Linked DNA regions of Homo sapiens. The protein of the gene in region 1 purifies or fractionates together with the protein of each later gene. This does not show direct contact. Each region holds a gene or a part of one and is shown in the gene's direction. Other genes may lie near its edges.

Evidence for each region.
Region 2: the proteins of HDAC2 (region 1) and ZNF217 purify together in Homo sapiens (affinity purification with mass spectrometry; 6 studies listed by BioGRID and IntAct, with this or other methods). This does not show direct contact.
Region 3: the proteins of HDAC2 (region 1) and SMARCA5 fractionate together in Homo sapiens (co-fractionation; 5 studies listed by BioGRID, with this or other methods). This does not show direct contact.
Region 4: the proteins of HDAC2 (region 1) and ZMYM2 purify together in Homo sapiens (affinity purification with mass spectrometry; 7 studies listed by BioGRID and IntAct, with this or other methods). This does not show direct contact.
Region 5: the proteins of HDAC2 (region 1) and SNAI1 purify together in Homo sapiens (affinity purification with western blotting; 5 studies listed by BioGRID and IntAct, with this or other methods). This does not show direct contact.
Region 6: the proteins of HDAC2 (region 1) and EZH2 purify together in Homo sapiens (affinity purification with western blotting; 5 studies listed by BioGRID, with this or other methods). This does not show direct contact.
Region 7: the proteins of HDAC2 (region 1) and CHD3 purify together in Homo sapiens (affinity purification with mass spectrometry; 12 studies listed by BioGRID and IntAct, with this or other methods). This does not show direct contact.

What each region holds. Positions count from the first base shown.
Region 1 is NC_000006.12:113,940,149-113,943,648, reverse strand, and holds part of HDAC2 (histone deacetylase 2), read left to right. Parts: intron 1-142; coding exon 143-298; intron 299-1,883; coding exon 1,884-1,941; intron 1,942-2,560; coding exon 2,561-2,591; 3' UTR 2,592-3,500. UniProt on the Homo sapiens protein: Histone deacetylase that catalyzes the deacetylation of lysine residues on the N-terminal part of the core histones (H2A, H2B, H3 and H4).
Region 2 is NC_000020.11:53,566,571-53,569,839, reverse strand, and holds the end of ZNF217 (zinc finger protein 217), read left to right. Parts: intron 1-575; coding exon of another isoform or gene 576-724; 3' UTR 725-2,769; downstream 2,770-3,269.
Region 3 is NC_000004.12:143,516,702-143,520,201, forward strand, and holds part of SMARCA5 (SWI/SNF-related matrix-associated actin-dependent regulator of chromatin subfamily A member 5), read left to right. Parts: intron 1-653; coding exon 654-728; intron 729-3,500. UniProt on the Homo sapiens protein: ATPase that possesses intrinsic ATP-dependent nucleosome-remodeling activity.
Region 4 is NC_000013.11:20,059,727-20,063,226, forward strand, and holds part of ZMYM2 (zinc finger MYM-type protein 2), read left to right. Parts: intron 1-1,326; coding exon 1,327-1,498; intron 1,499-3,119; coding exon 3,120-3,245; intron 3,246-3,500. UniProt on the Homo sapiens protein: Involved in the negative regulation of transcription.
Region 5 is NC_000020.11:49,985,980-49,989,386, forward strand, and holds the end of SNAI1 (zinc finger protein SNAI1), read left to right. Parts: intron 1-1,892; coding exon 1,893-2,077; 3' UTR 2,078-2,907; downstream 2,908-3,407. UniProt on the Homo sapiens protein: Involved in induction of the epithelial to mesenchymal transition (EMT), formation and maintenance of embryonic mesoderm, growth arrest, survival and cell migration.
Region 6 is NC_000007.14:148,825,292-148,828,791, reverse strand, and holds part of EZH2 (histone-lysine N-methyltransferase EZH2), read left to right. Parts: coding exon 1-52; intron 53-1,525; coding exon 1,526-1,628; intron 1,629-2,159; coding exon 2,160-2,338; intron 2,339-3,500. UniProt on the Homo sapiens protein: Polycomb group (PcG) protein. Catalytic subunit of the PRC2/EED-EZH2 complex, which methylates 'Lys-9' (H3K9me) and 'Lys-27' (H3K27me) of histone H3, leading to transcriptional repression of the affected target gene.
Region 7 is NC_000017.11:7,891,789-7,895,288, forward strand, and holds part of CHD3 (chromodomain-helicase-DNA-binding protein 3), read left to right. Parts: intron 1-1,497; coding exon 1,498-1,781; intron 1,782-2,016; coding exon 2,017-2,147; intron 2,148-2,326; coding exon 2,327-2,477; intron 2,478-2,626; coding exon 2,627-2,820; intron 2,821-3,128; coding exon 3,129-3,362; intron 3,363-3,500.

The sequences.
Region 1 (3,500 bases):
TCAAATTTTAAAATCATTAGGCATGTTACCCTTTACGTTTAAATGTGGTAACTAACTGCTTAGTGCATTTGTATGAGTATGCTGTAATGATTATAAAACCTGTGACTGTTTTTGTCAAAATTTATTAAAATATTCTGTGCAGTTCGAGCATCAGACAAGCGGATAGCTTGTGATGAAGAATTCTCAGATTCTGAGGATGAAGGAGAAGGAGGTCGAAGAAATGTGGCTGATCATAAGAAAGGAGCAAAGAAAGCTAGAATTGAAGAAGATAAGAAAGAAACAGAGGACAAAAAAACAGGTCAGATTTGTTTCTTGGTAATTGTGTTTTAATTGTAAATTTTAAAAATTGGGCTGCATTATAATGTTTATGCTATCGAGAAGTCAGTTGCACAGGTATCAGGAGGAAGTATGCTAGGTAGGTGACTCTTTTTTCTTACATATAAGTGGTACTTAGCTCTTAAAGCTTTTATATAAATGTTATTGTTCCTATTTGCTTTAGTAATACAGGAAACCTTATTTTCTTGATAACATAGGTTTAAAATAGTGAACATTGCATTGTGATATAGATTGGTTAAGAAAGAGGACAAAGTAATTATGAATCTATTGGTAGTGCATGGTCAGAACTGAACTTCTAAGGTAATTTTTAGCTACCTAAAGCTTATTTAATGGGAGAAAACACAAAGAAGAGTTACATATCCTTAGACCAGTTTTGCCATTTTGAAAAAGGTCAAATAATGGATTTTGTTCAGAAATTGAAGAAAACATTAAAAACTCTGAGGAAAGCTAGGAGGGGATTTGGGACCTGGGTTAGGGAGGAAAAAATACTTTGATACATTGCCTTACTTTAAAACGCTGTGTTAGCTTTAGGCAATTGAATTTGCTACCGGAATCTGTTACCTTTCATCTGACTTCCCAGAACACTTACACATGCCTCTGCCATTTTATTTAACACATCATATTATAGCACCTCACAGGATTTTGTCTCCCTACTAGACTGAGCTGCTCATGGCTAGGGAACACAGTATCTTAAATATTTGTATTCTCAGCACTTGATGCATTTCCTAATGCAAGTAATGGTGATGAGCACACGTTTTAGTTAACCTGTTAATTTTGATCCTGTAGTATGTGAAAAACTGATTTAGAGATAATGATCCAATTTTTCCTATGTCTATCAAATTGAAGTTATGTGAATAAGCCAGCTTTTTTTTTTTTTTTTAAACTAGAGAGTTAGTAATCTATAACATCTGACACATTTAGTTCTGTTCTTTTACTTGTGGATTCACTCCTCAATAGGCTACATACAGAAATTTATAATTTTAACTTCCCAATGTATTACAATGATGGCTTCAGTCTATATTTGTAACTGATTGACATCCAAAAATTCAAGCCATGACTGAATTAAGGACGACTTAACTTTAGCTGTAGGATTTTCCTAACTTTTTTTCTTTTCTTTCATTTTCACTATGTTTTCTTGTCTGTCTGTTTTTGGTGTTCTCATTTTTAAAAGCTTTATCTTTTCTGTGCTTAAAAAATAAACTCTCTATTTGGTGATGAGGCTCTTTCGATAGGGCCTTGCAGTTGTTAAAATTCTTCAGCCTACTGAAAAATGAAATACTACCACAGAAAGCTTTTTTTAAATCTATAGGTCAAAACCTAGAGTTAGGGCCACCTTTTCTCCCTCTGCACCCCAATCCAGTGACTATTCATAGCTTGTACTGCCATCGTTTAGGAAACACCCAACACAAAGCTTATTTAGACCGAATTCATTAATAATAAGATTGCATAACTTTTTATATTTTAAAAATAAAGTATATTTTGAAATAATATATATACATTTTATATTTCAAAATAGGTTTTAATCTTTTCCCAATCTTTATTTTTAGACGTTAAGGAAGAAGATAAATCCAAGGACAACAGTGGTGAAAAAACAGATACCAAAGGGTAAATGATGTTCCTTATCAAGTACTTTTTACATACTATAAAAATACTAAACATGTTTATTGGTGTGTGTTTGTGTACACACTTCAGAAATACTAGACTGAACCTTAGAACATCATTATGAGGTGCTCTGAATTTTAGTTTGTATTGGTACATAAGACAACATATGCCATCTTACCTATTGGTTTATCAGTATAACTATATCAGTCAGTTTGTATTCTTGTACGTAGTTTATCTGAGACCCTTTTTTGCTGTTATCTTTTATATATGCACTTAATGGTTTTCATGGTGTTCTTATTTCTGTGTACATGATTTTTTTAGTGTTGTGAGATAGGTAAATTTAAGAAACAATTTTAAGTAAAAACAGTTGAGGATTTTAGTGTCAGAAAGCATGTAAATGTTTGGGCACACATAATTTTGTGCCAGCCTTTACAGGATAACTTGGAATAGTTTATTAAATCACTAGAAAAATTAAGGCATTAATTACTCCAGAAACACTTAAGACATTATCAATTAATGTGTTTCTTAGCATGAGCCTACAGGACCTGATCAATATAATAGGTCAGTGCATTTAAACCAAGATTGTGCCATTTTTAATATTTCACATTGCCTCTTTTAACAGAACCAAATCAGAACAGCTCAGCAACCCCTGAATTTGACAGTCTCACCAATTTCAGAAAATCATTAAAAAGAAAATATTGAAAGGAAAATGTTTTCTTTTTGAAGACTTCTGGCTTCATTTTATACTACTTTGGCATGGACTGTATTTATTTTCAAATGGCTTTTTCGTTTTTGTTTTTCTTGGCAAGTTTTATTGTGAGTTTTTCTAATTATGAAGCAAAATTTCTTTTCTCCACCATGCTTTATGTGATAGTATTTAAAATTGATGTGAGTTATTATGTCAAAAAAACTGATCTATTAAAGAAGTAATTGGCCTTTCTGAGCTGATTTTTCCATCTTTTGTAATTATCTTTATTAAAAAATTGTACTTGGATTATCTTTTGTCTGTTTATTACTACAATATGAAGTCTTGTTTCAGTGGCTAATGACATCATTTCTGTAGACTTACAATACACTCTAGGTGAAAGATAATGATTACAGCTTGAAAGATAACTATTTGCTGTTTCTTTGGGAAGAGTATTTATAGTAATTATTACTTATCTTTGCAATAGAAATTCTACCACCTTGCCCTCTATAGCTTAGCCAGTTAGTATCAGTGAAGATTAACATCCCATTACAATTTATGAAATAATACAGACTCTGCAATTGAGATGTAGGAGTTCTTTGAGTTGACCCAAAGATTCTCAAAATTGAAATGGAAATTCTGAATTGAAAGAAGAAACTGACCAGAACTTGTATTGACCAGACTTGCCTATAGTATATTGCTGGTTTAAAATGGAACCTGCAGACAAAACCTGTTTCTTTTACTGCATTTACATGGCATCCAGGTTCCATTATTATTTACGTGACATCCAGGTTTCTAACTCAAGGAAATAAACACAACTGATTTATCATTCAGCAACTACTTATTGTGTGTCTGCCCATTTTAAGACTGTAGGAGT
Region 2 (3,269 bases), on another chromosome or scaffold:
TTTCTTGTGCATGGCAACTGCCTTTTACTGAATTCTGATTCTTGGTTAAGTCATCTCAGTTAAATTACTAAAAGTAGCTCCAAAGTTCGCAGCATTATCTAGTTAGTCATTCTCCTAATACTTTCATAGCAAAAGTTGAACTTAAATAGAACCCAGGGCCAGGCGCAGTGGCTCATGCCTGTAATCGCAGCACTTTGGGAGGCCAAGGCGGGCAGATCACTTGAAGTCAGGAGTTCAAGACCAGCCTGGCCAACATGGTGAAACCCTTCTCTACTAAAAATACAAAAAAATTAGCCGGGCGTGGTGGTGCATGCCTGTAGTCCCAGCTACTTGGAAGGCTGAGGCAGGAGAATCGCTTGAACCTGGGAGGTAGAGGTTGCAGTGAGCCAAGATCGTGCCGCTGCACTCCAGCCTGGGCGACAGAGTGAGACTGTCTCAAAAACAACAACAACAAATAGAACCCATTGCATTTCTAGGTCAGTTTGGTTCTATGTATTACGCTTTTTTAAAGAAAGAATTTTCTAAACTGTATTCAGTTTTGATCTTAATCATTTAAAAAATGTTGTTTTCCTTAGGTCTTGGTGGATGTCAGTGCTTACTCCCCATGAAATTAAATTTTACTTCATCCTTTGAGAAGCGAATGGTGAAAGCTACTGAAATAAGCTGTGATTGTACTGTACATAAAACATATGAGGAATCTGCAAGGAACACTACAGTTGTGTAAAGTTGTTCTGTTAACTTTTGTACCAAATAGCAATACAAACTAGTTGGAACAGTTGGAACTTACATACATGGGGACTGGAAATCTCTATTTTGTCCCTGAATAATATTTTTCTTAGAATTGACCAAATAAGAAGTGGAATTTTTGCATACTTGAGCGCTGCTGAAAAGAAATCATTTGGGTTGGGTGGGGCGGGATGGGGGAAAAGTATATAATGCTTGCACCTCAGGTAAAAATCTGTAAATATCTAAGTTGTAAACCTGCTTGTTCAAATACTGTGTGTATTCCTTTTCTCTAATGCAGCTCATCACTTGGAGCAGTTTCTGCTATTGTGCTCTTTCATTTAAAATGTATGTTTTTTTTTTTTTAAACTGTCAATGATTTTGTATTATGTTGAATCCACCCAAATCTATTGTTGTCTTAAAATTGTTAATGGAAGTATTGACCCTCTATGATATGTGCTGCAGATATCGAGGTCAGCCATTCGGAAGCTGGCAGCATTTTATCGCAACTTTGAGCATCTCAGATGGGGAAGGCACCTTCTTCCTCGCCTCTCCAGATTGTCCTGGAACCTCCAGGATCCTTGACTGAGGGCGTTGGGATGGCTTGTAGGATTTTTAAGAGAGTGTGTCTACAGACAAGCATTTTCTCTGTAGAGCAGCCACACGTTGTATAAACATAAACTGTATGTGCAGTTATTTAAATTTGTTTCTGTCAAATTAATCATTTTTGTTGGACGATTCAGTGGCGGGGGGGTTTTGCCTAAATTAGTATATAAAAACAAAAATGCTAAATTATATCTGTGAATTGCAGGTATTGGGGAACAGTTTTAAGGGAAATTTTGGGGGGAACATTTTAGGTTTGTATTTGGTAGTCTTAATGTATCTGGCATTTGGGTGAACTGTGGACATACTAGAGTTGATTATAGACACATTGATTTTGAATAAGGAACTGCTGGCCGAGCCCGCTGGGAGTCTAGAAAGAGAAAATCTGTTTCTAGACCTCAGTTATTTTCCCATTTTTGGTTGTTTTGAAGCAGTAACATTTTTCTCAGTGCACATGCAATTTGGGTTTTAGAGAAGATGGCCACCAGCTGGCTTCCTAGATATTTTAAACTTTTGTTCTTTAATATGCTGTCCATGGCTGAGTTTATTAGTACATGGGCTTAGTGACCACAAAATATTTTATTAAGAAACTGTTTCAAAAATAAATTTGCACTGTTCATTTTTCTGGCCTCGCTGTTCTCCATAGAGCAAGGGTAATCCTAGAAAAAATTTTTTTTTTTTAAATTATGCAACGTAAGATGTCCTCCTTGATAGAAGTCTTAGCTCCTGTGTTACAAGGGAGAACTCATTTGAGATCAGTCTGTTGGCATTGCAATGAAGTGCTTTGTATCAGGAAAGTGTACACTATTGACCTTTTTTCCTGTTCACAAGCTGAGCCATATGTACATAATCTAGATTTTGTTTTCATAGTTTTGCACTTTTATAGCCTATTTTTGAAGATTAACACATTTGCAAGATGATTGACTCAATCTTTGCCTAATCCAATGAGTGTTACAGAGAGCTTGCTGTGACTAGAACCATAAATCTTAAAGGGGGTATGTGATAATAGAGGGCTGGAATTTAAACCTGTATTTAAAAAAAAGAATCACCAAATCTATTTGAAAACAAGTCGATTTGTATTATGCTGGAATTTTTTGGGCTTTCAGATTTCTCTTTTTAACCACATTTCTGAATGTATAAAAATACCAATTATTTTCCTACAGCCCTTTGTACTTCAAAATATGTTTTTGTGTCCATCAGTATTAACTATTGGTATACTACTGGTTTTATATTTTTTTTTCTTTGAGACAACAGTACATATAATAGAGGTACAATTCGTTGGATTTTTGTTTATGTATTTATTTCATTCCAGTTTGATTTATTTTAATTGTTGATACTTAAGTTGTCGAACAGTAGACATTACTTGTTTTATTTATGATATATTTCAGCTTAAAGTTATGTTATTATATGTGGAAGTGTAAATATAGATTTGGTGTTTTGCAATCTTGAGTTTTAGTGTTTATTGTGTTTCTGGTTTCTGATTTTGTTTTATTTAACTTTTTAGTTTTCTTTCTTTTTTTTTTTTTTGAGATGTGCTCCTGCTCTGTCACTCAGGCTGGAGTGCAGTGGTGCAATCACAGCTCACTGCAGCCTTGAACCCCTGGGCTCAACTGATCCTCCAGCTCTCGGCCTCCCGAGTATCGAGCCATCATGCCTGGCTTATAAACACAATTTTAAGGCCAGCACGTGGCTCACGCCTGTAATCCCAGCCCTTTGGAAGGCCAAGGCGGGTGGATCACTTGAAACCAAGAGTTTGAGACCAGCCTGGCCAACATGGCGAAACCCCGTCTTTACTAAAAATACAAAAATTAGCTGAGTGTGGTGGTGCACACCTGTGGCCCCAGCTACTCAAGAGGCTAAGGCATGAGAAATCACTTGAACCCGGGAGGCAAAGGTTGCAGTGAGCTGAGATTGCGCCAGTGCACTCCAGCCTGGGCAACAGA
Region 3 (3,500 bases), on another chromosome or scaffold:
TGCATCATTAATGAAGATTACTTCTGCCAATTTTTTTTAATGGATGAATAGAACTTTGCAGTGTAGAAGTTGTTTTTTGTTGCTTGTGACATATGAATGTCAGGATAAATATATTTGCAAGAATAACATTTATTACTAGTTTAGGAATCAGACTGTAGTTAGAGTATTCAATTTAGGCTGCGAGATAAAGTTTTTGTAATATTCCAGAAGGTGGAAATCAGGGTGACTAATTCTGATTTCTTTGTAGACATTTGTGTGGTAGCACAGTAGATACTGTAGTTTTATGACAAAAGGGGAACTTTTCCCCACATTTTATACTATTTAGTTTGGTTTCATGGTTATTACAGAAAAAGAGAAACAGATTGGCTTGTATTAAATGTAGTTTTCTTTTAGGATGATGAAGATAATCTTGTGTTCTAATCTTGGCAACAACCATACAGTTTATATATATGGGTTAAATACGTTGTTATCCCCATAGTATCTAATATCATTTTATCAGTTTTTCTGTTAGCTTAGATGACAGCTGTTTAAGTTTCTAGGAAGTTTGGGGTGAGAATGTATTATTTAAGATGTGTTTTGGTCAGAAATTGGTCTATAATGGTATGTTTACTATTTTCGAAGACCAATTCTATTTAATTATTTCTTTCTACCAGGAAATATTTGATGATGCGTCACCTGGAAAGCAAAAGGAAATCCAAGAACCAGATCCTACCTATGAAGAAAAAATGGTATGTTCTAGGCTTGTGAATAGAGTCTATAAGGAAAACTTTTTATCAGGTGATTAAATGTACTAAACATCTATCTTAGTCCATTTTGTGTTACAACAATACCACAGACTGGGTAATTTATAAAGAAACGAAATTTATTTCTTAGAGTTCTGGAGGCTGGCAAGTCCAAGGTCAAGGCCAGCATTTGTTGAGGGCCTTCTTGCAGTGTCATTATATGGAGGAAGGCCAAGAGAAGAGAGCAAGACAGGACTGAACTTTCTTTTATAACAAGCTCACTGGTGATAACCTCCTCCTGAGATACTGACAGTAATCTTTTCCTAATCACCTCTTATTAGGCCCTACCTCCCAACACTGTTGCGTTGGGGATTAAATTACAACATGGGAGATTTGGAGGGGGACACAGTCAAACCATAGCAATGTCTGTTTAATTTTTGTAATTATGGCACAGATATCCATTTGAAATATGTGTAATATGGAATACTATAACTTCCATATCTTATGTGTCTATGTAAGCCAAATGGAAGTATTATATGAATTAACATAATATGATGTCATTATCTAGTTATGTTAACAACACCTTTAAAAATTTAACCTTGGAAGCGAGGTGAAGACCAGAATAGTTACTCAGTGTATGTTTATTCTGCACTTGACTAGCATTGTACTCTGCTAGTTACCAAAAAAAGAAATATGCTCCTTGTTCACAGCATTTTTATATTATAGATGGGGTCTTTACAAAAAGAACATGACATTATATTGGAGTCATTCAAGTCCCAGTTCACGTTCCGTATCTTCTAAGAAACTTCTCAAAACTATGACTTGACTTAAACAGTACCTACACAGAGCTTTAAATTTAAATTCAGTTTTAGTAATAGTAGTAGTGGCTAACAGTGAATGTTTACTCCGTATCTGACCCTGTTAGGAATGCTTTATATGGATTAAACTCATTTAATTGTATTGAAATCTCAAAAAGTTAAAATAACAATGTATTAAATAAGAATACCACTACACAGTGTGCTCCTGTAGGGTAAAAACAGTGTCTTAATCTTTCTTTCTGTCTTCAGTACCCAGAACAGTATCTGGCACATAGCAGATCTTACATATTTTTTAAAACATACTTTTTTCTTGTCCTTTGACTTTCTCTTCCAAATCAGTAAATATTTTTGAATGTCTTAAATAGCTTCAAAATCTTAAAATTATGGTATGTATTTTATGTGCATGTATAATATGCACAATACATATAACACTATGTAAATTATAAATGATATATCTTTAGGTTTGATTTGTTATATATTTTACATATGTATATATGTAACTGTCACCTTTTTTGCTATCAAACTTAGAGAAAAAATAGATTTGCCGCTCTGTTTTTTTAAAGTGAATACTACTTTGAATACAGTCTACATATTTTAATACTGCTTTAACCCTTTATAGTTTAGATTCTGACACACTCTGCTGGTGAATCTAATTGCCAATTCTGAGGCTTAGTTTTAGTTTCTTGATTTGTGCTTGACATTGTTGACCATTCCTCAAAAATCTTGACTTGCCTTGAAAGACATTTTTTCCCGTGATAATATCCTCTTTGCTTTTTTATTCCTTTGTCCTTCCTTATTAAAATTTGAACATTTCTTCCTAGACAGTTTGATTCTTACTGGTTTTTACCTGGTATCTTTAAACTGAATATTTTCAAATACTTAACCTCTAGCCCAGAAGCCTGTAATCCGTATTTTCATTTACTTTAAAATCCTATTCATACCTCTTACTTGAGAATATCCAAAACTGAATTCATAATTTTTACTTAGCATACCTTAGTGTTACCTCAATGAATGAAAGTTCCTCTTCAGGTATACTCAAGATGTTCATGACAGTACTGCATACTTGTAAACAATAAGTTTACTTACGAGTTTATTCTCTTTTCCATATCACCCTAGTTTAGTATTTTTCTATTATTGCATGGATTATTTTGTGCTTCTGTATTTGCCTCCTTTCTTATGATCTGGCCCCTTCCAAGTTTCTTAACATTTTTGCAAAGTGTTATTTATAACACAAATTTGACTGTGAAATGGAGGTTTTTCAGTGGCTCTCTACAATGCTTTTCATTTTCTTAGTGGCCTTTATTGGAACTCTTTTCGTTTCTTCCAGGTTTTTCAGTCTCCCAGCATTATTTCCTTTTTTGACATCATGATCTTCACCTGCACAGTTTTCTTCTAAGCAAGAAGCTCCCTTGTCATCTGCTAGTTCTAACCATAGATAAGTTCACTATCCACTCCTCGTTCTTGAACCCAGAATGCTGAGTACTACTTCAGAAAACTAAATACTAGTGCTGATTGGTGCCAGTATAAGTTTATGGTTTTTATTTTCTTGGACCTTGAGTATTTATTGCCTATCAGTCTCATTTAGCCATTCTAAAATGTCCCCACTCTGATCAGTCTTTCTTCTCCATTTCTACCATGCCCTCATTTCCAATCTTCCTCCACAAAGAATTGCAGGCCTGTCTTTATTTTCTTTCTCTTTTCAAACATATGTATAGCCTCTATTATCCTACCTCATTTCTTCCTGTTTCAGAGAAAGAAGCTAGTCCAAAGCTATTCACTTTAATTTCCGTTTGATTTTATAATTGATTTCTTTCAGGTTCCTAATCATACTCTCTTGTTTCTGCTTTTTAGGTTCTGTTGGTTTTTCTCCCTCAAGACATTTCAGTTTTAACCTTTTCATTCTTTCAAGCAGTTTATCTTGATTCCAAACATAATTACAATAATTATTTTTTCAGTCCAA
Region 4 (3,500 bases), on another chromosome or scaffold:
CAGGTTCCACATCCGTGACCAAACACAGACTGAAAATACAGTATTCTGCCTGTAATCCCAGCACTTTGGGAGGCTAAGGTAGGCGTATCTTCAGCCCAGGAGTTCAAGACCAGCCTGGGCAACATGGTGACACCCTGTCTCTACTAAAAATGTAAAAATTAGCCAGGCACAGTGGCATATACCTGTAATCCCAGCTACTTGGGAGGCTGAGGTAGGAAGATTGCTTGAGCTTGGGAGATGGAGGCTGCAATGAGCCGTGATTGCACCACTGCACTGCAGCCTGGTCTACAAAGCAAGTCCTTATCTCAAAAAAAATGAAAATAAAAAATTATTTGAGGATGTGAAATCTGTGTAGAAGGCTGACTGTAGGGGTGTGGAACTTGAGTATGCATAGACTTTGGTATCCATCCACAGGTGGTCCTGGAACCAATCCCCTAGAATACTGAGGATAACTCTAGTTGCAGTTACTAGTTTAATGAAGCTAATAAAACCATCTTTACCTTTCTTCGACAGTTAACTTAGATTTGGTTGAATCTCTGTTGTCATGATTGATTGCTTTGTGTATAGTATGTATATGTTCATCCTCGAGAGTGACATTTCGCGGATGTCTGTGCCTGCTCTGTGCATATTAAGTTTATATTTGGGTTCATTTTCAAAAGGAATATTTGTGGGCCATGTGCAGTGGCTCACGCCTGTAATCCCAGCACTTTAGGAGGCTGACATGGGCAGATCACCTGAGGTCAGGAGTTCAAGACCAGACTGGCCAACATGGTGAAACCCCCTCTCTACTAAAAATACAAAATTAGTTGGGCATGGTGGCACATGCCTGTAATCCCAGCTGCTGGGGAGGCTGAGGCAGGAGAATCGCTTGAACCCGGGAGGCGGAGGTTGCAGTGAACTGAGATAGCGCCATTGCACTCCAGCCTGGGCAACAAGAGTGAAATTCCATCTCAAAAAAAAAAAAGAAAAATATTTGTGAAGCCATAAGGTTTAGAACTGAAACATAGAATTTCATATAAAATATTATTTTATCCCAAATCACTTGCAGTACTTAGAAGAACACTGTGTCAGGGCTTGGCTATTATAGTCCCCTGGGGGACAGAAATACTTCAAAAATTCTTTTTCTTTAATTTGAATTCCAAAAAGTAGATGCTTGTATTCTAGGCTTTCTTATCACAGTTAACATCTTAGTTTTGTATGTGTTCTTTTCAAAGCTTTTATCCAGTGTGATATTACAAAGTAGATCATGTGTCAGAGTAATTTTTAATTTGGAAAAATACCTTTTAATGTTTAGTAAACCTAACTCAAAATGATTTGGTTAATTAGGTGCCAGTTCCTGTTTTTCTGCCTGCTCCATTGGACAGCAGTGAGAAGATTCCTGCAGCAATTGAGGAGCTAAAAAGCAAGGTTTCTTCAGATGCTCTTGATACAGAGTTGCTTACAATGACGGATATGATGAGTGAAGACGAGGGGAAAACAGAGACAACCAACATCAACAGTGAGCTACACTAAATTATACCTTGCGAATAAGTGTTAACATTGGTTATTTATAAGTATTGTTACAGTACTTTCCAGGGCATATCATTTTGTTTCAACTTATGTGGGGGTGAGGAAAGCATTGTAACAAAAATGTTTTTTATATTAAGAGATCTACACTGTATTTAGCCAGGTGCCCTCAGACAGATATCCGAAGCAGGAATTTGGTCTTTGGTCTCTGTTTTAAGCAGGATTTGACTTGTAAAATCAACTCAAAATTATTCTTGTTAATGGAGTAGTGCTGATGCAAAACTATAATAACTTGTAGTAGACTCTAATGATGATCAAAACTCTTATTTTGTAATAGTTATCCCTAGTTTTTTGTTTTGTTTTGTTTTTTTTTTTAGATGAACTCTTGCTCTGTTGCCCAGGGTGGAGTGTAGTAGCATGATCCCGGTTCACTGAGATCTCTGCCTCCTGGGTTCAAGCTATGCTTCTGCCTCAGCCTCCTGAGTAGCTGGAATTACAGGCACGTGCCACCACGCCCAGCCAATTTTTGTCTTTTTAGTAGAGACAGGGCTTCCCTATGTTGGCCAGGCTGATCTCAAACTCCTGACCTCAGGTGATCCACCTGCTTCCCAAAGTGCTGGTATTACAGGTGTGAGCTACCACACCCAGCCCCTAGTTTTCTTTTATTGCTTATACTAATAAAATAATTTGCATTATCTAAACCAGAGTTTATCTTAACCTCTGTTAGGGCAGTGCTTGCGCTACATGGTATAACGTGATGAGTGTGTTGTGGATGGTTCTAAGTCACTTAGAATATTTATTTTCCACCCTTAACCCTCTCTTGATACCCAAAGTCCTATTTCAACCTTGAGCTAATTCTTACCCTTACCCTAGAGGACAATCAAAATACTATAATTTTCTCTGGATTTAATAATGAGACAGTGTTTTTGAAGCACTGTGGTAAGGAGTTGTGAAATTAGTGGGTTGCAACCAGTGTTTTTGTTTAAGAAAAGAAAAAGCTAAGTGGAATAGGGTAAGAGAAATGACAGTGTGAATCCCTCATAGAAAGGGTAAGTATTATTTTGTGAAACCAGTGTGTATACAGATGTCTTTCTGTTCCCCACCATCACCTTGCAGTATGTGCTGGATAAAATGCATTTCTTGCCATGATTACAACACAAAAACACTTGAAAGCAACTGATCGAACCATTAAAAGGCAGTTGTTAATATGCATATATTGAACAATCTGAGAAACCTGGGTCAAAATTCAAAGAGTATTGAAAACTACAGTTGTCTACCCTCATTAGTTTATTTTTGACAAAAAGTTGCTTTTAGAAATACTTTACTTGTTGAAGTTGTTTTACTATCAAAGCATACCTATTAGCTTTTGAAGGGAGTCCTCCTGTAAAATTTATAGGATTAAAAGTTTTCATGTGCTTGTGACTAATTATGAGGTTTATAGTGGTTTACATTTTGAGATAGTTATATATATAATATGCCCTTTTCTTTTGTGACATTATACGTATTTTTTTATATTGCATTTAAAATTAAATGACTTGCTTTTGCCAGATTAAATACAGATACCATTGGGGTTTTCTGTTTTGATTCCTAATGATAATATGGATTGATTTCAGGTGTAATTATTGAAACAGATATAATTGGTTCAGACCTTTTGAAGAACTCTGACCCAGAGACACAGTCCAGCATGCCTGATGTACCATATGAACCAGATTTGGATATCGAAATAGATTTTCCCAGAGGTACTCAAAACCTTTATGACTATGGAATTTAGTTATGGAGTCAACTGTGGTTATGATCATTTACCATTTGATGTTTGTGTCATTGCCTTTTAGCAGTGTTCATATTTTTTATTCTTGTTATTTTTTAAACTCACCTTAAGAGTTAACTTCATATTTTGTTGTTGTTTTTTTTTAAAAACCCACCTTAACAGTTAACTTCTGGAATGAGATCACTTGAGTCCAGGAGTTCAAGACCAGCCTGGGCAATGTGGTGAA
Region 5 (3,407 bases), on another chromosome or scaffold:
CCTTTTGTTTGGGTTCAGGTCTCATCACACTTTGGGCACTTACTGTACAGGAGGGTAGTGCTCAGGACTTCACCAACAGCCCTGGGAAGGGAAGGGAGGTGCTGTCCTAACTCTGGTCTTACAAATGGACTCCAGCCCCTTTTCCAGATCTCCAGAGTCAGCCCTTAGTTCACAAGGGTGAACTTACCCTTCTCATTCACATGAAGACTTAGAATGCAATCAACAAACCCTTCAGGCGTGGCGTGTGGAGGCTGCTGAGTAATGGCAGAGTGGAGTAGTGCTCAGGCACCCCTCCCCCAATCCTCTATGTCCCCCACCCTTTGGAGTGGCGAGTTTCCATTTCTGCCCCATGAGACTGAGTCCAGCTCTCAGGCGCTCCATAAGTCCCTATTGAATGCATGGGTCCCATTGGAGCCATCCTCTGGACTCTCTCCTACCCTGGTAGCTCAGTGTGGCACCCTAGGCACCCAGGAGGTGATGGAATGAATTCACTCTCAGCTCTTAAATTCCATCCAGCGCTGGGATTTCACAGGCGGGCCCTGACCTTGCGGGCATATCAGACTGGGCGTGAGGGGATTGGAGAATTGCATGTTTTTTAAAAAGACTATTCAGTATTATGGAATAGTGTCTAGCACTTAGTAGGAGCTCAGTAGATTAAAAAAAAAATTATAGACAGGGTCTTGCTTTATCGCCTAGGCTTGTCTCAAACTCCTGGCTTCAAGCAATCCTGCCTCACTCGGCCTCCCAGAGTGATGGGATTACAAGCGTGAGCCACCACACCCAGCCTCAATAGATTTTTGTTTAATGGGTTACTGTTATGACCTTTTATTTGGAAAATGCTGCATCCCCCAGAAAAAAACAAATCAACATTATTGGTGTTTTTGGAACTATATAGCTTTTTGGTTGGAGCAGGGATTGTTATGAGGCATGAGTGAGGGGGCAGACTCCTCTGAGGCCTCTTTAATTTTTAAAACAGACTTATTTATTCTCTAAGGGCTTGTTGAGGATTTACTGGGCACCCAGCTCCATGTGCAAGACTTTTCCCAACACAGCCTTGGCCAGGCAGATGGTGTGTCAGGGCCACAGGTTTCCGTAGCCTCTTGGGTGATAGAAAGGGGCCCAGGCCCTGGGCTGGGGCTCAGAAGGGACTCAAAGGAGGCCCTTGCCCTTATGGGACTCAGCCTGATTGGAGAACAGACAAGGAGATTTGGGATTACAGCGCAGGAGGTGGGGTGGTGAGGAAAGCAGGCTGCTGGCCGGGCCCCAGGAGTGGCCTAACCAGCTTGGAGGTGGGGGTGGGGAAGCCTCTTAAGGCTGACTCTGGCTTTGGCCCCCAACAGAGTAAATCAAGGAATGACTCCAGGACTGATGGTAAGGACACCAGTCACGTCCTCCCTTGACTGAAGGCAGTAAGGGCAGTAGGTGAAATCAGAGGCTTTGGGGTCCTGCCAGGGGAACCTGAACATGCTACTTCTGGGCCTCAGTTTCACTGTCTCTGAAATGAGACCACAGTAGGATCAAGTGACAGTAGGATGAATCAGTAAAGGTGTTGAGTCATTGTTGACCACTTCGCACGTCCCTGCGGGATGTGGATGAGTACCCTACCTTCTGTCACTTATCAACCCCTATGAGTGGGGGGTGAATAGCCCCATTTTACAGGTGGGAAAATGGAGGCTCAGAGAAGCCAGACAACTTGCTCAGAGTTGCACAGTGGGAAGCAGCAGAGCTCCGTCAGGTCCCGGCCTTTGGACCCTGGCTGTGTGTTTGACGGAGGCCTGGCTTTCCTGGGATCATGGGATTCTTTCAGGGTTTGGGGTATGCGGGGAGGGATTCCCATCACTGCCAGCCGTTGTCCCACGGCTCACTCGGCCTTTCTGGCGTTCTCTCCCCAGGCGAGAAGCCCTTCTCCTGTCCCCACTGCAGCCGTGCCTTCGCTGACCGCTCCAACCTGCGGGCCCACCTCCAGACCCACTCAGATGTCAAGAAGTACCAGTGCCAGGCGTGTGCTCGGACCTTCTCCCGAATGTCCCTGCTCCACAAGCACCAAGAGTCCGGCTGCTCAGGATGTCCCCGCTGACCCTCGAGGCTCCCTCTTCCTCTCCATACCTGCCCCTGCCTGACAGCCTTCCCCAGCTCCAGCAGGAAGGACCCCACATCCTTCTCACTGCCATGGAATTCCCTCCTGAGTGCCCCACTTCTGGCCACATCAGCCCCACAGGACTTTGATGAAGACCATTTTCTGGTTCTGTGTCCTCTGCCTGGGCTCTGGAAGAGGCCTTCCCATGGCCATTTCTGTGGAGGGAGGGCAGCTGGCCCCCAGCCCTGGGGGATTCCTGAGCTGGCCTGTCTGCGTGGGTTTTTGTATCCAGAGCTGTTTGGATACAGCTGCTTTGAGCTACAGGACAAAGGCTGACAGACTCACTGGGAAGCTCCCACCCCACTCAGGGGACCCCACTCCCCTCACACACACCCCCCCACAAGGAACCCTCAGGCCACCCTCCACGAGGTGTGACTAACTATGCAATAATCCACCCCCAGGTGCAGCCCCAGGGCCTGCGGAGGCGGTGGCAGACTAGAGTCTGAGATGCCCCGAGCCCAGGCAGCTATTTCAGCCTCCTGTTTGGTGGGGTGGCACCTGTTTCCCGGGCAATTTAACAATGTCTGAAAAGGGACTGTGAGTAATGGCTGTCACTTGTCGGGGGCCCAAGTGGGGTGCTCTGGTCTGACCGATGTGTCTCCCAGAACTATTCTGGGGGCCCGACAGGTGGGCCTGGGAGGAAGATGTTTACATTTTTAAAGGTACACTGGTATTTATATTTCAAACATTTTGTATCAAGGAAACGTTTTGTATAGTTATATGTACAGTTTATTGATATTCAATAAAGCAGTTAATTTATATATTAAAAAGTCTTTGGTGTCATAGAGGAGTGGGTATTTTGAAAGGTCTTTGGTAAGGGAGGAGGGGACAGGAATTCCTGAAGCTTAGATATTTCTGACACAGCCTTAAATCTTGTCCTTGGAAACATCATAGGGCTTTGGAGTCCTGGGTGTCACTGTCAGGGACCTTATGAGACTGGGTTTTCCCGTTGGCCTGGGTGTCCTGTCTGCTGCTGTTTGGGTGAGCCAGCGGCATCCATACGAGCTCTTCACTATACACTGTGGCTTTTTACTTTCTCGTTCTTGAATTTTGAAGTTGATCTGGCCCACGGAGTGCAAAGCTGGCTTCCTGGGTCTTATCAACTAGACAGGCTGCAAAGCTCTGCCCCAGCACTGCAGGTCTTTTGGGGTGGGATTGTCCGCTTCCCCCAGATGCGAGTGGAATGCGACCAAGGAGACAGAGGATGTCCTTCCTGTTTCCAAGGGCTCCAGGCCCCCTTGGGCCTCCTTGTCAGTCCCACACCTCCGTC
Region 6 (3,500 bases), on another chromosome or scaffold:
GATCCTGAAGAAAGAGAAGAAAAGCAGAAAGATCTGGAGGATCACCGAGATGGTATGCCTGATTATTAGGATTCTGTGTAGCCATTACAGCTTTCTTTCAAAAACAGTAGAAAGAGTAGAAATAGGGCTTAGTTTCTTCTTTCTCTTTTTCTTTCTTTGTTAAATATCACATTGATAGCAGTATAATCAAAATTAACATATTATGGCCAGGTAGGGTGGCTAACTCTGTAATCCTAGCACTTGGGAGGCTAAGGTGGGCAGATTGCTTGAGCCCAGGAGTTCAAGACCAACCTGGGCAACATAGTGAGACCCCATCTCTACTAAAAAGTAAAAAAATGAGACAGGGTGATTGCTTGAGCCCAGGAGGTGTAGGCTGCATTGAGCTGTGATTGTGCCACTGCACAGTCTGGCTGGGTGACAGAGTGAGACCTTGCCTTAAAAAAGAAAAAAAAAAGCATAATACTTGCAACATTATCTTCACTTGAGTATCTTTGTTTCCTTTGGCTAGCAAAGAACGTAATTTTTTGTGTGCTTCACTGGGCATCATTATAATATATAACATTGATATTCACCGTGTACAAGTTGTGTACTAATCACTTCTTATGCACCAGCTCACTTAATCCTCATAATGGCTTCATGAGATGGATGTTATTATCAGATCCATTTTCTTTTTCGAGACGGAGTCTCGCTCTGTCGCCCAGGCTAGAGTACAGTGGCCCCATCTCAGCTTACTGCAAGCTTCGCCTCCTGGGTTCACGCCATTCTCCTGCCTCAGCCTCCCGAGTAGCTGGGACTATAGGCACCTGCCACCACACCCAGCTAATTTTTTGTATTTTTTAGTAGAGACGGGGTTTCACCGTGTTAGCCAGGATGGTCTCTATCTCCTGACCTCGTGATCCACCTGCCTCGGCCTCCCAAAGTGCTAGGATTACAGGCGTGAGCCACTGCGCCCCACCTGTCAGATCCATTTTCTATTTGAGGGGATAGATTTAGAGAGGTTAAGTAACTTATAAGATTACACTATTGGGAAGAAACAGAGTCAATAGTTGGTGTTCTCTACTTGGCAAAGCTCATGCTAAGGCAGCATAGAATAGAATAATTTGGCGGGTGAAATAGCAATTTCTAAGAAGCGTATTTCAAAAAAGAGAAAATAACAAAAAGGTACCTTATTGACCTTATTGATCATCTAGTTCAGCTCCTTCATTTTACAGATGAGTAAACAGACCCAAGAGGTAAAGTGATCACTCTAAGTCACAAAATCAGTTAGTAGCAGAGCTGGGAGTAGAACCTAGGTTTTCTGCTTCCCAGTGCTCTTAAAGCTTTTCATATTTGAATTTGAATTTTGTTTTTGACTGACTGGCATTCCACAGACATGTAAAGTATGTGAGAAGTAAGTAAAACACAAAATAGAGATGATTTCTTAGAAAATCAGCTTTGTTATAGAGACATAATTGGGTAGAGAAAATGAAAGATCAAAAACTTGTTTACTTCCATTCTTTTTTTCCTTTCATATTCTCCTGTTTAGATAAAGAAAGCCGCCCACCTCGGAAATTTCCTTCTGATAAAATTTTTGAAGCCATTTCCTCAATGTTTCCAGATAAGGGCACAGCAGAAGAACTAAAGGAAAAGTAAGAATTTGTTCCTTTGAGGCAATCTTGCCCTGTATGGTATGTAACTCACCATTTTGGTTTATTACAAATGGAATCAATGTAGCGGATGAGCCACTACACTTTGTTTACAGTGTTTGCAAGATACTTGAAGCAACATGTGTACTTGTGGTACTCTGCATTACAAAATATTTCCTGTAGATAGAATAAATACATATGTATAATTTATATATACACATAAACACACACATATACATAAAATTTACAGTAGTACATTTACAGGAAAATTATCTGGATACTGGTAGAAATTTGATGTTTAGTTAAAACTAATATAATATCCTTTTCCATGATATATTTGAATCATATCGATGAATTTGATTCTTGATAACACCATGCACAATATTTAGTTGGCTCTTTATCTAAATAGAGCCATTCCTTTATGTTTTAGGCAAGATAAACATCAAAAGTAACACATGGAAACCTTTTAGAAACTGTTTTCAAAAAAGTGATTTTTGTTTCATGTTTACTTAAATTTTTCTTGGTTAATGTCAGATATAAAGAACTCACCGAACAGCAGCTCCCAGGCGCACTTCCTCCTGAATGTACCCCCAACATAGATGGACCAAATGCTAAATCTGTTCAGAGAGAGCAAAGCTTACACTCCTTTCATACGCTTTTCTGTAGGCGATGTTTTAAATATGACTGCTTCCTACATCGTAAGTGCAATTATTGTACGTTTTCATTTTCTATCTTTGTTGTGGAATTATGTTTTAAAGCAGCTTGGAGAGTGCTATCATTTATTACAACTAGAATTTATCATTTAATCTTGTAGTTACTTTGACAAATATCTTTAGATCTCAGTATTATTATTTTTACTTTGTTGCTTGAGGATTGCTCTGAAATCTTTTGCATGTATTTCATTTGGACTACTATTTTCCACTAACATGGAATTCAGGTCAGTGATTTTTTTTTTTTTCCCCCGTAAGTGCTAACTAAGCAGTTGTTTTACAATAAAACTATTATTATGAACTGGTAGCCCAGAGCAACATTGCTGATATTGATGAATAAATTGTGTTAAATAAGAAATTGGCCAAAAAAATGTTCAGGTAAGTGCTTGTCGATTTAATGTAATTTTATTTTATTTTATTTTATTTTTTTGCCCTCTGGGTAAGTTGTTTTTTAAAAATACCTGCATTTGAATACAAGTAAAACGTAAAATGTTCTTAGTGAAAATGTAAGTATGGTATATACAAAAATACTTTTTTCCTCTGGCATTTCTAGGGAATGTGGTTTCTTAGTAAATTTTCCTGGTAATTGAAACTTCTAAGCACAGTTTAAAAGCGTCAACTACTTTTGAGGCACATATTTTGAAAATGTATTTAATACTTCCTAATTTTCCTAGAGTAGTTTGCTTATTATAGTTTGGTTTTTCCTATATTGTATTTTAGTACGTCTGTCTATGGCATGGTAATTTCTTTAGGGGCTTTGACCCATTGTAAAATCGTTTTCCCCTGTACTCAACGGCCCCACATTGCTTTGTTGTTTTGAGTTCCTGTGCCTACCATTGACAGATTTATTCCTCCTCGTTCACCAATGATAACGTCTTTTTAAGCTTGCCCAAGCAGCTGTACCTCACCTCCTCCTAAGTGTTTGCTCTACTTGTTTTTGCTGCAGCTAATAATGTGTTGAGTGATGTAATACATTGGTCTGGAAATGTTAAGTTTTGTTTTTGTGTGTGACATATTAGTGGTTTAGTTATCTTAAAATAGAAAAACTTGAAGTAGATTTTTAGAATTATCATTATATTGTTACCTCCTTGCTCTTGTTCTAACTCCTCATCTAGTTTAAATTGATTTGGTAGTTTTAAAAATTCGTAGTAAGTCATCCATTTGT
Region 7 (3,500 bases), on another chromosome or scaffold:
AGGCAAAGGTTGTAGTGAGCCGAGATCACACCACTGCTATGCTCTAGCCTGGGCAACAAGCGAAACTCCGTCTCAAAAAAAAAAAAAGAAAAAATAGTGCCGATGTATTTTGTTTTGGGGAGAAGGCACTTTAACATATCAGTTCAGTGCTCTGGAGGCAGCTGCTGAGGTTCACATCTGGTTACATTTTGGGCAAGTGACTGAACTTCTTCAATCCTCAATTTCCTCTTCTATAAACGGGGAATAATAATATATACCTCATAGGAATCTGTGTGGGTTTGGTGGGATAATGAATGGAAAGCACAGTACCGTCAGTGCCTGGCTCCTAGGGAGCATTCAGTAACTGGTGACTGTCATTAGTAACGTTGTCTCACCTACCTTACTGCTGAACTTGGGGCTTTTCTCAGCACCATGGATCACCCGTGTCCGCACAAGAGTTGAGCACCCCACCCCAGAGCAGAACCAGCATGGTCTGACTCTTTCACACTCCGTCCTACGGAAGCCCATCTTCAGGGCCCATGGAACTTACTAGTAAAATGCAGAGAATCATAGCAACTCAAGAGTATTATTGTGAGGACAAGATAAGGTGGAATGTATGTGAAAGGGTTTTATGAACTGTAAAGTAGTATACAAAAGTAAAGCATTTTTGTTGATTTTATTTTAACCTTTTATGCTTTTAAGTTTTATTTCGCTGTTTTTTATTTCCCCTTTTTTTTTTTTTTTTTTTGAGATGGAATCTCACTCTGTCGCCAGGCTGGAGTGTAGTGGCGCAATCTTGGCTCACTGCAACCTCTGCCTCCCAGGTTCAAGCAATTTTTCTGCCTCAGCCTCCCGAGTAGCTGAGACTACAGGTGCGCACCACTACACCCAGCTAATTTTTGTATTTTTAGTAGAGACGGGGTTTCGCCATGTTGGCCAGGATGGTCTCCATCTCTTGACCTCGTGATCCTCCCACCTTGGCCTCCCAAAGTACTGGGATTACAGGCGTGAGCCACTGCGCCCAGCCTATTTCCCTTTTTTTAAAGACAGGGTCTCATTCTGTCACCCAGGCTGCACTGCAGTGGTGTGATCATAGCTCACTATATCCTCCAACTCCTGGGCTCAAGCCACCCTCCTGCCTCAGCCTCAGGTGCTGCCACACCCAGCTAATTATTTTTTTTTATTTTAATTTTTTGTAGAGACAGGATCTCACTTTGTTGCCCAGGCTTATCTCATAGCCCTGGGCTCAAGCAATCCTCCTGCTTCAGCCTGGAATTACAGGCATGAGCCACCGTGCCTGGCCTGTATTTCTTTTTTAATGCTTTTTTAAACCTGTTCTTTCCCCGCTTTTTTTAAACTTCTTTTTATTTATTTTTTTAAATGGCTGTTTTTCCTAATAGGACATATTCTCACCACCCAGGAATCCTAGCATGTACATAGATTTAATTGATGAGGGGAGATGGCAGTGTTCCCAGACCATCTGTGAAGGGTCCGAGTTTTCTGCTTCTATATTTACAGGCCCCTAATTGCTAAGAAGAATCCTAAGATCCCAATGTCTAAGATGATGACCATCCTTGGGGCCAAATGGAGAGAGTTCAGTGCCAACAACCCCTTCAAGGGGTCAGCAGCTGCTGTGGCGGCGGCAGCGGCAGCAGCAGCAGCAGCTGTAGCTGAGCAGGTGTCAGCTGCTGTCTCGTCGGCCACCCCCATAGCACCCTCCGGACCCCCCGCCCTTCCACCACCCCCTGCTGCTGATATCCAGCCCCCACCCATCCGAAGAGCCAAAACCAAAGAGGGCAAAGGTAGGGAACTCTCTTCCAACAACTGTCATCTCACCTTCCAAACTGCATGTCTTCACATTAGAGTCTGGAACTCTCGCCTTCCCAGCCCTGATTGCTGGAGGAGAGATGCTTTCCAGGAAGTGGGGCTTAGTGAAACCACAGCCCACAGAGGAATCCAGAGGCCCCTGTGACCTCCATAATTCCAGGATGTCATGACCTCTCCTTTTTCCTCTTCTCACCCCGACTCCTCATTCAGGTCCAGGCCATAAGAGGCGGAGTAAGAGCCCCCGAGTGCCTGATGGACGCAAGAAGCTTCGGGGAAAGAAAATGGCACCACTCAAAATAAAACTAGGGCTTCTGGGTGGCAAGAGGAAGAAAGGAGGCTCGGTGAGTGACCCGTCCCTGTCTACTAAACACCTGGGGGCCAAGGATCCAGAGACAGGGATCCGTGAGGGCCAAGGATCCAGAGACAGGGATCCGTGAGGGATGGCGGAACAGGAAGCCAAAGGCCTGGGGAGGGCGTAGAATGAAGTCTGCCTCACTGACGGCCACGGGGCTATGGGCAGTATGTTTTTCAGAGCGACGAAGGTCCTGAACCAGAGGCTGAGGAATCAGACCTGGACAGTGGCAGTGTCCACAGTGCCTCAGGCCGGCCTGATGGCCCTGTCCGCACCAAGAAACTAAAGAGAGGCCGGCCAGGAAGGAAGAAGAAGAAGGGTAAGGAGTGTTGACTGTGTGTGATCCTGTCAGTGGGCCGTCCTCTCATTCTTATTTTCAATTTTGACTTCTCTCTTCAACCCTTCTCCCTCTCTCTCTCCATCTCCCCCTGCCCTGCTTCCTTATCCCTCCACCGGGGTATATGACAGTCCTGGGCTGTCCTGCAGTGGCCGGGGAGGAGGAGGTTGATGGCTACGAGACGGATCACCAGGATTACTGTGAGGTGTGCCAGCAGGGTGGGGAAATTATTCTGTGTGACACCTGCCCTCGTGCCTACCACCTCGTCTGCCTTGATCCTGAGCTTGACCGGGCTCCAGAGGGCAAATGGAGCTGCCCTCACTGTGTGAGTACCTAATGCCAGCATCTGATGGCCCTGAGGAACCCACCCATCTCTTTCCCCCTTGGTTTCACTTACCCTCTTCCTGCCCCCAGATGGCTGGACTTCTTAGTAACAGATGTCCGAGTGTCTAGGATCCTAATGTATTCCTTTCTCCCACAATCAACATTTCTGAAACTGGAGTGTCCTTTTCCTTAGTTCCCACCAGTCTTCTCTGCACTTCTAGGATTCAGGTGTCCTGTCTTTGCCTGTATCTTCCAGTTTCATTCCTTAATTTCTTCCATCTGTCTGTGTGTCTATCCTTGGCCCCCTAGGAGAAGGAGGGGGTCCAGTGGGAGGCCAAGGAGGAAGAAGAAGAATACGAAGAGGAGGGAGAGGAAGAAGGGGAGAAGGAGGAGGAGGATGATCACATGGAGTACTGCCGCGTATGCAAGGACGGCGGGGAGCTCCTGTGCTGTGACGCGTGCATCTCCTCCTACCACATTCATTGTCTAAACCCTCCCCTGCCTGACATTCCCAATGGTGAATGGCTGTGTCCCCGATGCACAGTGAGTGGAAACATCTCCCCTCTGTATTTACTGTCAGGCCTGATCCCTTCCCCCATCCCTGGGGCCCACATGTCCAGCTTTTCATTTCTCTGCACTCCCCCACCCTTGTGGGACCCCTATCTTCTCATCTAACAATGG